Regions from separate parts of the Homo sapiens genome. Here all the other regions are reported to be linked to region 2. The links are microRNA targets in miRTarBase. Many come from high-throughput screens and were not tested one by one. Region 2 holds a microRNA gene; each other region holds the end of a gene's coding sequence.
What was found. The annotated mature microRNA hsa-miR-4635 reads UCUUGAAGUCAGAACCCGCAA and lies in region 2 at 1,988-2,008, shown strand. An mRNA with a match to its seed (bases 2 to 7 or 8) in the 3' UTR can be bound and repressed. Matches are read on the target gene's strand: a 7mer-m8 pairs with bases 2 to 8, a 7mer-A1 pairs with bases 2 to 7 and ends in A, and an 8mer does both.

Region 1: miRTarBase lists RCOR1 as a target of hsa-miR-4635. The part of its 3' UTR that is shown has no 7-base or 8-base seed match.
Region 3: the mRNA of CCDC149 is a reported target of hsa-miR-4635. Seed matches in the 3' UTR shown: 7mer-m8 at 296-302, 7mer-A1 at 202-208 and 7mer-A1 at 47-53.

Annotation. Positions count from the first base shown.
Region 1 is chr14:102,726,267-102,729,266 of GRCh38, reverse strand. RCOR1 (REST corepressor 1) reads right to left here. Exons shown (of 12, transcript NM_015156.4): 12 at 1-2,799. The coding sequence ends at 2,761. Among named protein-coding and RNA genes, the nearest start is that of TRAF3, 50 kb to the left of the region's middle.
Region 2 is chr5:1,061,565-1,064,911 of GRCh38, reverse strand. It overlaps MIR4635 (microRNA 4635), which reads left to right and starts at 1,938; the gene lies at 1,938-2,016. It overlaps SLC12A7 (solute carrier family 12 member 7), which reads left to right. Exons shown (of 24, transcript NM_006598.3): 19 at 660-829; 20 at 937-1,068.
Region 3 is chr4:24,805,714-24,809,060 of GRCh38, forward strand. It overlaps CCDC149 (coiled-coil domain containing 149), which reads right to left. Exons shown (of 13, transcript NM_001395273.1): 13 at 1-3,106. The coding sequence ends at 2,676. Among named protein-coding and RNA genes, the nearest start is that of SOD3, 12 kb to the left of the region's middle. RefSeq lists an enhancer at 3,030-3,347.

The sequences.
Region 1 (3,000 bases), not on the chromosome of region 2:
CATCTACATAAAATTAAATAAAACAAACTTTTAATGCATATGCAATACAATTTATATCTTTTAGGAGTTCTAAACTAAAAGTTAAACTATTATTTGCATCAATGACACTATATTTTGCACAATAACTTATACTTAGGAGAAAATTTTCCACAAAAATATATATAATTATGACATTCACATTGATAATTTTTAAGAAGACAAAGCTTAAGTGAACATTCCATCTGAAGCAGTTATCACACCCCAAACCCTACCTGCCAATGCACCTAATTCTTGATATGTTAAAAAGTCTTCATATAAATAAGATCAAACCACTGCGCTTTTAAAGCTAAGTGATTTCTTACATTTACATCATTGCAAAGACAGTGTAATGCAACAGTTTAAAACACAGTGCTATCTTACGCGGGAAAGCACAACAAAGGCAGTCAAGGACAGCTCCCATTTTCCCTCTGTCAAATAAAAATGACATGCCCCTTCCTCTCGGGGAGAAAGCCCAGGTCAGCTGCTGTGATCACACGTGATTCTTCAGGGCTGGAGACCATTCAGTGCCAGGAACCAAGTAAAGGGATAGTGCAGAATACAGATCAAGGCCTGGCACTGCTGGTCAGTTTGCCACGCTATATAAAAATTAGCATCAAGCTTCCAAGCACTGCCAGGAGGGACCAGGCTATTTTCCTTAACAGAGATACAGACAGACCTATTGGCAGGGTGAGAAACGCACTGCAGCAATTGCCTACTGCTTCTGTTAGCAAGAAGGAGGTCTTGAGGGAAGCACGGAGAACCTAAAGCTTCAGCTCATACCTTAGTGTACCCTTTATGCAATGTGCAAACTTAGGCTGACTCCTTCCCATGCTTCTCCTGCCGCCCTCGGTGTACACAGCAGGCTTATGGTGAAAAGAAGCCTCTCCCTCATCACTAGTGTTATTTTGCTAACCCTGTCTCCAGGTAGCAGCAGCAATCCGGGACTCCTCTGATGCTTCCCAGGCTTTTACGTGACCAACACACACCTGGCACGGGAACGAGATGATGAAGGGCAGCAAGTCCCATTGTACTTTCCTTTTGAATGACCTTTCTCTCCAGACTATACTAAAAAAAAATTTACAATTCCAAAAAACCTAGGTTTCTAGCTGACCCTCTTTCTAAAGAGAAAATCAGCTGACTTCAACAACAACAACAACAACAAAAAACAAGGTGCTTGGGAGACAAAACATATCAAACTTTAATTGCATATTTTAAATTCTTCAGAATTCTGTTTAGGCCTTAAAGCATCTGCATTTTTTTGGTATTGAAAGCAGGAAAAAAATCCAAATGATGCAAACAACAACAACAACAACAAAAGCGACTTCAGCGTATTGAGTGCAGTCTGAATGGCCGTGGGGTGGGAACAGGGTATGTTAGAATGCAGGCTGTCTGCTCAACCCTCAGCAGGCCCATGGTCTGATAAGATAACAAAAGTGATTCTGGAAGTCTCAAAATGTTTATTAGAAATTTTTACTTGTTCCCAGTCCAACCAAAAGGCATTACAGACCACTCTGTAGGTTATTTCTTTTCATCTCAGTCTCACTAGACCAATACATTGATCACTTCTCTGTCCTGTACTCTGATATGAAAAGAGAGTGCATGGTGTTTGTGTAATCACATCAGCACATGAAGGACACAAACTGACATACAGAGTGCCACATAAAAGGCCAGGCACACCGAGAGAACGCGGAACAACGCGCAGCTTTCATAAACCAGCGCCAGCTATTCTAATATCCTGACATTTAAAATCTGCACTGTCAGAATCTGCAGCAAGCTCTCCCCTGTCTCCTAATCTCAGTGATGTCATCTTTGGCTAGCAAATAACTTGAAAGAAGAAATAAGACACTAAAACAGAAAAAGGATTGATAACCATGGTTGCCAAAAGGAGAAGGCACCAATTCCAAATTTACAAGCACCAGGTACAGTGATGTGGGCCGAACCTCTTGGAGGTGGGGGGGTGGGGGGGGTCAGGAAAAGATGGGGTGGCAACCACCCTGGGGTCACAATGCTGAAAAGTTGAAGGCAGAAAGCATTGAGGTCCACGTTCCCTTTAAGCTACAGTGTCCAACGACAGTTGCAGTAAATGATCTTTGTAACACTTGGGAAGGGAGAAGAGGGAGATTTAAGCCAACTCAATTTATAAATCATAACTGTACCCCATGTTTAGGGAAATGTGAGTTGCATCAGGATGCTTGGCATGATAAAGGTTATGATGCAGTCTGGCAATATATATTAGTTTCCAAAAAAGCGTATTATCACTTAGGTGGTTGTCTCAGAAAAGAACAAAAGAAACTTTCTAGAAGGCCAACAGGGTCGCGGTGACTCTGAAAATGACTCTATGCACAAAGTAGAAACTGCAGGCCATGCAGGAACAGAGTCGGGCCTTCCAAGGAGACTGCCTGCTCTGAAGCTGCTGACTGGGAAGAGCTGCCATTGGTGGGGCTCGGGGGCTCCGGCGGGAGAGGCGGTTCCCAGAGTCACAAGAGATGTGCAGGCCGTGAGACTTCCCCAGCACGTGGGCAGAGTGTGAGATGCAGTGGAGCTCTCTGGGAAGTGGCGCCAACATGGAGGAACGAGCAAAGAATTAAGGCAGATGGAGCACAGGACTGGAAGTATATGCCTTTTTTGGTAATAGCTGCTTGTCCAGAGAGATGTGATGCAGATGGCTAGGTGATGTCTCATAATACCTGATATCCCGGATAACACAGTAGTCCACACCAAGTGTTCAAAGCCACCAGTTTCTCAGGAGGCAGATGCATATCTGACATCCAGAACAGGAGCCTGAGGCCAAGAGGAAAAAAAAAAAAAAAAGGATCAAAGAGTAGGTAAACAACACAAGCTGCTATTTCCAGTGTACTGAAAAGAGAAGGTAGCCAGCAAACCTGCAGAGCAAACACCGAGTTCTTTTTTTTTTTTTTGGAGGGGAGACAGGTCTCACTCTGTCTCCCAGGCTGGAGTGCAGTGGCGCTATCTCGGCTCGCT
Region 2 (3,347 bases):
GTCCCCTCGCGGTCCCCTCACCATCTCCTCGCCGTCCCCTCGCTGTCCCCTCGCCGTCTCCTCGCCGTCGCTTCGCCGTCCCCTCGCCGTTCCCTCACTGTCCCCTCGCCGTCTCCTCGCTGTCCCCTCACCGTCCCCTTGCTGTCCCTTCACCGTCTCCTCGCCGTCCCCTCGCTGTCCCTTCACCGTCTCCTCGCTGTCCCCTCACCGTCCCCTCACTGTCCCTTCACCGTCTCCTCGCTATCCCTTCACTGTCTCCTCGCCGTCCCCTCTGTCTCCTCGCTGTCCCCTCAACGTCCCCAGGCCTGTGCGCTGTCAGGTCCCGATGGGCCTTGAGGCCACCGACCCGAGGGTGTGTGCTCTGAGGCTGTCGAAGGCCCTGGCCCTGGGAGCGGCCATCTGAAAGTGTCCAGGCACTCCCTCCCCTTCTCCCAGAGCCCCGCAGGGGCTGGGGGATTCCCTGGACACATGACCAGCAGCTGAACTCTGCTGTGAGTCTCTGGCTGGTCCTTGGAGGAGCTGACGGAGTGAGGGTGGGGGCTTTGTGGGGACCCCCCTCGCCTCGCCGTGCCCGCCCCTGCACTGGCTGTGAGTCCCCGGGGAGGCCCCTTCCGCACCCTGGCCTCAGATGACCTGCGGACGGCCGCCTCTCTCCGCAGACACCGTCCGCGACACCACCGCCGCGCACCAGGCTCTGCTGGTGGCCAAGAACGTCGACTCGTTTCCGCAAAACCAGGAGCGCTTCGGCGGGGGCCACATCGACGTGTGGTGGATCGTGCACGACGGCGGCATGCTCATGCTGCTGCCCTTCCTGCTGCGCCAGCACAAGGTGGGGCGTGCGACGGGGACACGCCAGCCGGAGCACGGCCACCCCACGTGCTGCGGGCCGGGACGGGCTCCTCTGAGGCCCCACAGCCATGCCCTCCCTGTCTGCAGGTGTGGAGGAAGTGCCGGATGCGTATCTTCACCGTGGCCCAGGTGGACGACAACAGCATCCAGATGAAGAAGGACCTGCAGATGTTCTTGTACCACTTGCGCATCAGCGCCGAGGTGGAGGTGGTGGAGATGGTGAGTCCCGAGGGCTTGAGGGGAGGAGGCCGGGGGGAGGTGGGGAGGAGGTGGGGGGCGGCCCGGGAGGGCTGTGGGCCTCGTGAGGTGGGGGTGGAGGGGGAAGTGGAGATCGGGAGGGCTGTGGCCTCGTGAGGTGGGGGTGGAGGGGGAAGTGGAGATCGGGAGGGCTGTGGCCTCGTGAGGTGGGGGTGGAGGGGGAGATCAGGAGGTGGAGGTGGAGGTGGGGAGGAGAAGGTGGTGGCGATTGTGGCGGGGGCTGCCAGGCCTTGCGGGGTGGTCAAGGAGGCTTGGTTTTGGAATCGCCAGGACATCACAGAAAGCACAGAGCCCCGTGTGTTGCTTGTGGACACCTCGTGTAACACGGGTGTGGGTGTTGCCCTAGAGCCGGCATCAGCATCTCCGTGTCCTCCATGGTCCCGTGTCCTCCTCGGCCCGGGACCCCGTCCAGGACCTCACACCTCAGTGGTGTTGCCATGGTGGGTGCACCTCTGAGCACCTCCCGTTTTGGGTGCTCTCCCCAGATGGGCTCACCTTCCCACGGCTGGAAACCACACATCAGCAGTCGGGACCCGGGGAGAGGGGCACTGGTCAGTGAGGCCAGGCTGCAGCTGTCACGTGGGACAGACAGGCCCTCGGTCAGCTATAGGCAGGGCCTGGACAGAGACTCGTCCCGTCCTTCACGCCTGGAGAGGACGGGGTTGATGGGCGGAGGCCTGGCATTGGAGCGCTTGCCCCCGGCCCCCAAGCATGGAGCTCTGGATCCTGGGGATCTGGTGGGCCCCTTGTGCTGGATGGAACCATGCCTGCTCGCTACCAGCCCACCCGGATCCACGGCTGTGCCTTCCCCTCCGGTCCTGCTGGCGGTCCCGGGACTTTGTGGGTTCTGACCCCACTTGGATCACGCCGACAACACTGGTCTTGAAGTCAGAACCCGCAAAGTCCTGGTTTCTTCCGGCTCCCGTGACCCCAGCGCATGGTTTTGCAGGTCCTCAGGGGCCTGGACTCCTGGAGGTGGGTGCTGGGAAGACATAAAGCTGGATAGAGACTGTCACGCTGTCCCCCAGGAAGCCACCTGTGCCCCTGCAGCAGCCTGGGAGGTGCGGTCTCTCCAGCCCCGCAGCCCCCCAGTCCCCCAGTCCCTCAGTCCCCCAGCCCCCCAGCCCCCCAGCCCTGGGTATGGCAGAGGCCCCGAGCACCTGCTCCTGGTTTGTGTCGGGCTGTGAGTGAGGCCAGGCACGGCTTCGTGCCTCACCGACAACCTTCTGTGTTTCTGTGTCAGTTCCCGTGGAACTCAGTTGTCCTGTGGGGTTGTTCTTCCTCTTGCCCTGCAGGACCTTTCCTAGGCCGAGGGCTGCAGGCCTGCGTGACGCTGGATGGTTTTCTGCCCAGTTTTGTACACTGGGCTTAGTTTCCATGTGGCTGTGTCTTCGGGGACGATGGCTGGAGTTTGTCTTGTTTGGACGAGGCTTTGCGGGTTCAAGGTTGTAGGGGTTATTATTGGTGCTAATAGTCGTATGAATAACGTTATTTCCAAGTCATAAAACCGCTTAGTAAAATAGTAACAAAATGCTGCCTGGGAGAACCAGCCCTGCCAGGGGGCCAGGTGGGGCGGCCACTGGGGCCCAGAGGAAACAGGCAAAGTGAGCCCATGGCCCCAGCCGCACCCCCAGCCCCTCCGTGGTGCCAGAAGCAGCTCCCCAGCTCCTGAGCAGGGGTTGTTAGCTCTGAAGTCCGGGAACCTGGAGCTCCCAGCACCCCCCATGCTCCCAGCCATGTCTCTGGCAGGGCTGGGGCTGCCCACCCCTCCGTAGCCCTGGCCGCAGGGACAAGTGCCACCTGGCTGGAGAGGGGCGTCTGGGTCGCTGCCATTCAGTCTGGCATGCTGTTTATTTTTTTAAAAAAAGTTTTGAGACAGAGTCTCGCTCTGTCCCCAAGGCTGGAACCTCCACCTCCTGGGTTCAGGCAATTCTCCTGCCTCAGCCTCCTGAGTAGCTGGGACTACAGGTACACGTCACCATACCTGGCTAATTTTTTTTTTTTTCTTTGTATTTTTAGTAGCAATGGGGTTTCACCATGATGGCCAGGCTGGTCTCGAACTTCTGACCTCAGGTGATCCACCCGCCTCGGCCTCCCAAAGTGTTGGGATGACAGGTGTGAGCCACCGCACCTGATCTGGTGTGCTGTTTTAAATACTGGTGCTTAACAGGCACAGCTGCTCCCAACTCCCATGAGCCGGGTGCGGCGGGTGAGACACAGGGATCCCGCACGGCGGGTGC
Region 3 (3,347 bases), not on the chromosome of region 2:
GTGATCATTCTGACCAATAAAATGTGATAGGAACTGGGTTTCTCGCTCTTGAAACACACACACACACGTATGTGGGAAGAAACTTCCTTCTGCCTTTGAACAGGTGTTATCTGGAGCTGTTGCAGCCACCTCGTTATCATGAGAAAGCAGCTGACACAGCAGGAAGAGCAGGAAGATGGAAACCTAGAACCTTGACAACTTTCTTGAATGTATAGCCCTGGAATGCCTTACTTTCGAAGTTCCTGTTATACAACATAATTCATTTCCCTACCGCTTAAGTTTCTGTTAAGTGTGGCTTGAAGCTGAGAGGACCATGACTGATGCAGGGTTATCTAGTGAAGTAGGGGACAGAATGCCACAACCTTAAACTTTGATCCTAAAAAAGACAAAAGACAGCTGTAAGTAATTGCAGAAAGCCCCTTTAATGTCTGTGGAACAGAAGAACCATGTTGGATGGGGAAAGCAGGGGCAGGACACACGTGTCGCGTATCTATGGGGTGTTATCAGGGTTATATCTGTGACAGGATCAACTAACTTACTGGCTCTCATTTCACCTGATAACATAAGACCCTCCCCGCTGACTACACACAGTTTAGGTTATCACTCCTTATGACTCCTGCTCCCTGCCCTGCACCCTAGATTCTCTGGGACTCACTGCAGTTTTCCTGACTCTGATGGAATGTGCTGGAGTCTATTACGAGCCCTGCTTTTCAGAAGGTGCTCAACAGGCCCTGAAGATGTGCATCTGGCCGATGGTGGGTCAAAACCAGAGTTCTGCAGGCTGAGATTTTTCCTTTTATTATTATTAAACTTGGCTGTGTTTTCCTTCGGTGGCTCTGGCATCCTATGCAGTAGTGCTGGACATTTGCAGGCAGTTAAGGCCCAGTACAGCAGGAAGAATGATTTCTGTGACTGCTGGTCTGTGCAAGCCCTCCAGCTGCGGGAGCAACCTCCCTTGAGGAGAAGTTGTGGGGGTGGGCCTGGTGGGGAGGGCGATAGGCTGGGACAGAAGGAAGGATGGAATACTGGACCTGGTGGCCAGGGGTCAATGGGATGTCCTTCTCACCAGAAGCAACAGAACGCCGACTCCAGCATGCTCCCATTTCAACTAAAGTAGTGGGAGACCCACCCAATGTGCATCAAAGGCCTGGGTCCTTCTGGGCTGCACTTTGAGGAGGAGCAGCATAGTAAGGGATGGGGCGCCCATTCTGCTAGCAGAGTGATTCCTGGAGATGCAATCTGGGAGGGATGTATCCACGTGGCTGACCCCTCGTGTCCAGATGTCACATCTTAGTGTCATGAGCCTGGTATAAACATTGAATTTTTAGGATGCATTTTCACTGAGAGGCTACCACTCTGGGAGCCTCTCTTTTTCCTGCAAGGAGCGCCTCTCAAAGGAGTGATTCTGGTTCTCAGAGGCATTCTGAGCTTTGGGATCTAGTCTCAGGCTTTCCAGGGAAGGAAAAAGCTATGGCTGGATGACTTTTAGTTTTCTGCAGTGCCGGATGCCAACTAGAAAAGCTCATTTTTATCTGAAAGGAAAGAACCAGCTAGAATTGAGCATGCCCTCCTTTCCCATCCCTGTATCATGTCCTTGGTTCCACATCCCCCCTTGCCATGCTGTTGTGAAGTTGTTTTGTTTTCCTCTCTCTTTCCCATAAAAGGTCATGAGCTCTGTTTCTGTCTTTAAGATTCCCGTACTTGGTGGCACAAATGAGGCAGCCTCAACATTCTGTTGAAGGAGTGAAGGGTTTGGAAGTTCCAGGTGGTGCAGGAAACTAGACTGGCTCCCAGCAGGTAGATCTTTCCCAAACCTGAAATGGCCATACAATCCTGTATGTGAGACAGGCTGAATGCAGAGAATGAGCATTTCCAGGTGGTAGCTCTCATCTCATCTCACAAAAAAAACCAGACCACCACTGGGAGTCCTGTTCCCCGGCTTTTATGCTCACCCCTCCCAGTCACTTCAGATCAGTTAATTCTCCAGATTTACAAGCTAGAAAACTCCAGCTCTGGCACTCAGCACACAGGCCTCAACCGGGGCTGTGGATTTCAACCCAGAAGCCCAAACTTCTCAGCCGGCTTAAGGCCCCTTCCAACTGCCAGTCTGTACCACGACAGCAGTGCTGTGGGCACAATGCCAAGCACACCCATGCCAGGCAGTCCTCCTGGGCCCTGACTTGATGGGGTGCAGCCATGGGTCCTCTGGACACGTTTTGCTCAATTATACCTTCCTCTCCAGCTGCCTAACCTTGACCAAGATGGGGACCTGATTAAAAACCCCATCAGTTTCTAGCTCTTCCCATAATTTTGATTGACAACATTAAATGCTAATACAAAAACATCTTATCTCTGATAAAACAAAAGCTGACAGAAAGACGGATGCTGAAAACCAGCCATATGGTGGACACGATTCCTGGGCCTGGCCCTGTTCACAGTAGCACTCTCTGGCAGAAAAGAGATGACACTGAGAAGCTTGAGGACCTACATTTAATAAATCAAACTGTACTGGCATCATCAGAATATTCACAGTTTGCAACAGGATCAGTGCGTTTTCTCACTTGCAGACTCGGAGGTATTTCAGGAGAAGGCGACGTGAGCGCACCATTCCGATGCTTCATTCTTGACCCTCTCTGGGGCTTTCAATGTGTCATTGTGTCAGATCCCTCTCCCCTTCAGGTTTTCACGGTGCTCCTCATGCCTCCGCCCTCTGGGATCCCTTTGCCGTCTTCCGGTGTGGAAGCTTTGGCTGCTGGCCGGCTGGCCTCGAAGGAGTCCAGGTGAGATTTAGGGAGCTCCCCCTGGATGGCCAGGCCTGGCGGGGCTGGCCCCGTCTCACTCCTCTGACCTTCTATGGGACTCTCTCTTCTGACCTCTTCCAGTTCTGCAGCTGCCTGTTCCTTTGTCAGTTTAATTATTTCCCTCCCAAGGCTGTTTACTTCTTCCTCAGAAGGTAACTGGGGTAATGAAGGATGAAAGAGCTTGCATTGGTTCCCGCGGCTCTGATTTGCTGGGGAGTTGACAGCGGGCCTCCCAGCATCCTCAGGCGCTGTCAACGCCTCAGCAGCGGCACAACTTTCATCTTCTTCTTGCTTCTGAGCCTCCCCTGAAAACAGAACGAGGACAACATTAAACCTCTGGCAGCAAATCAGCCCTCACCGCCCCTCTTCTGCCAACCTCCTGCCCAGCCTACCAGCACAGGGCCTCTGAAAAAGGAGCAAGACTTTTTTGGCTCCCTGTGCAGGGCAATGGAGCCAAAGGGGAACACAGGACCCAGGTGAAACCAGCGAGCATGCATTCTAGTGATTCCTGCATTATTAACAGAGGGCAAGGGAGCACTTGGGCCA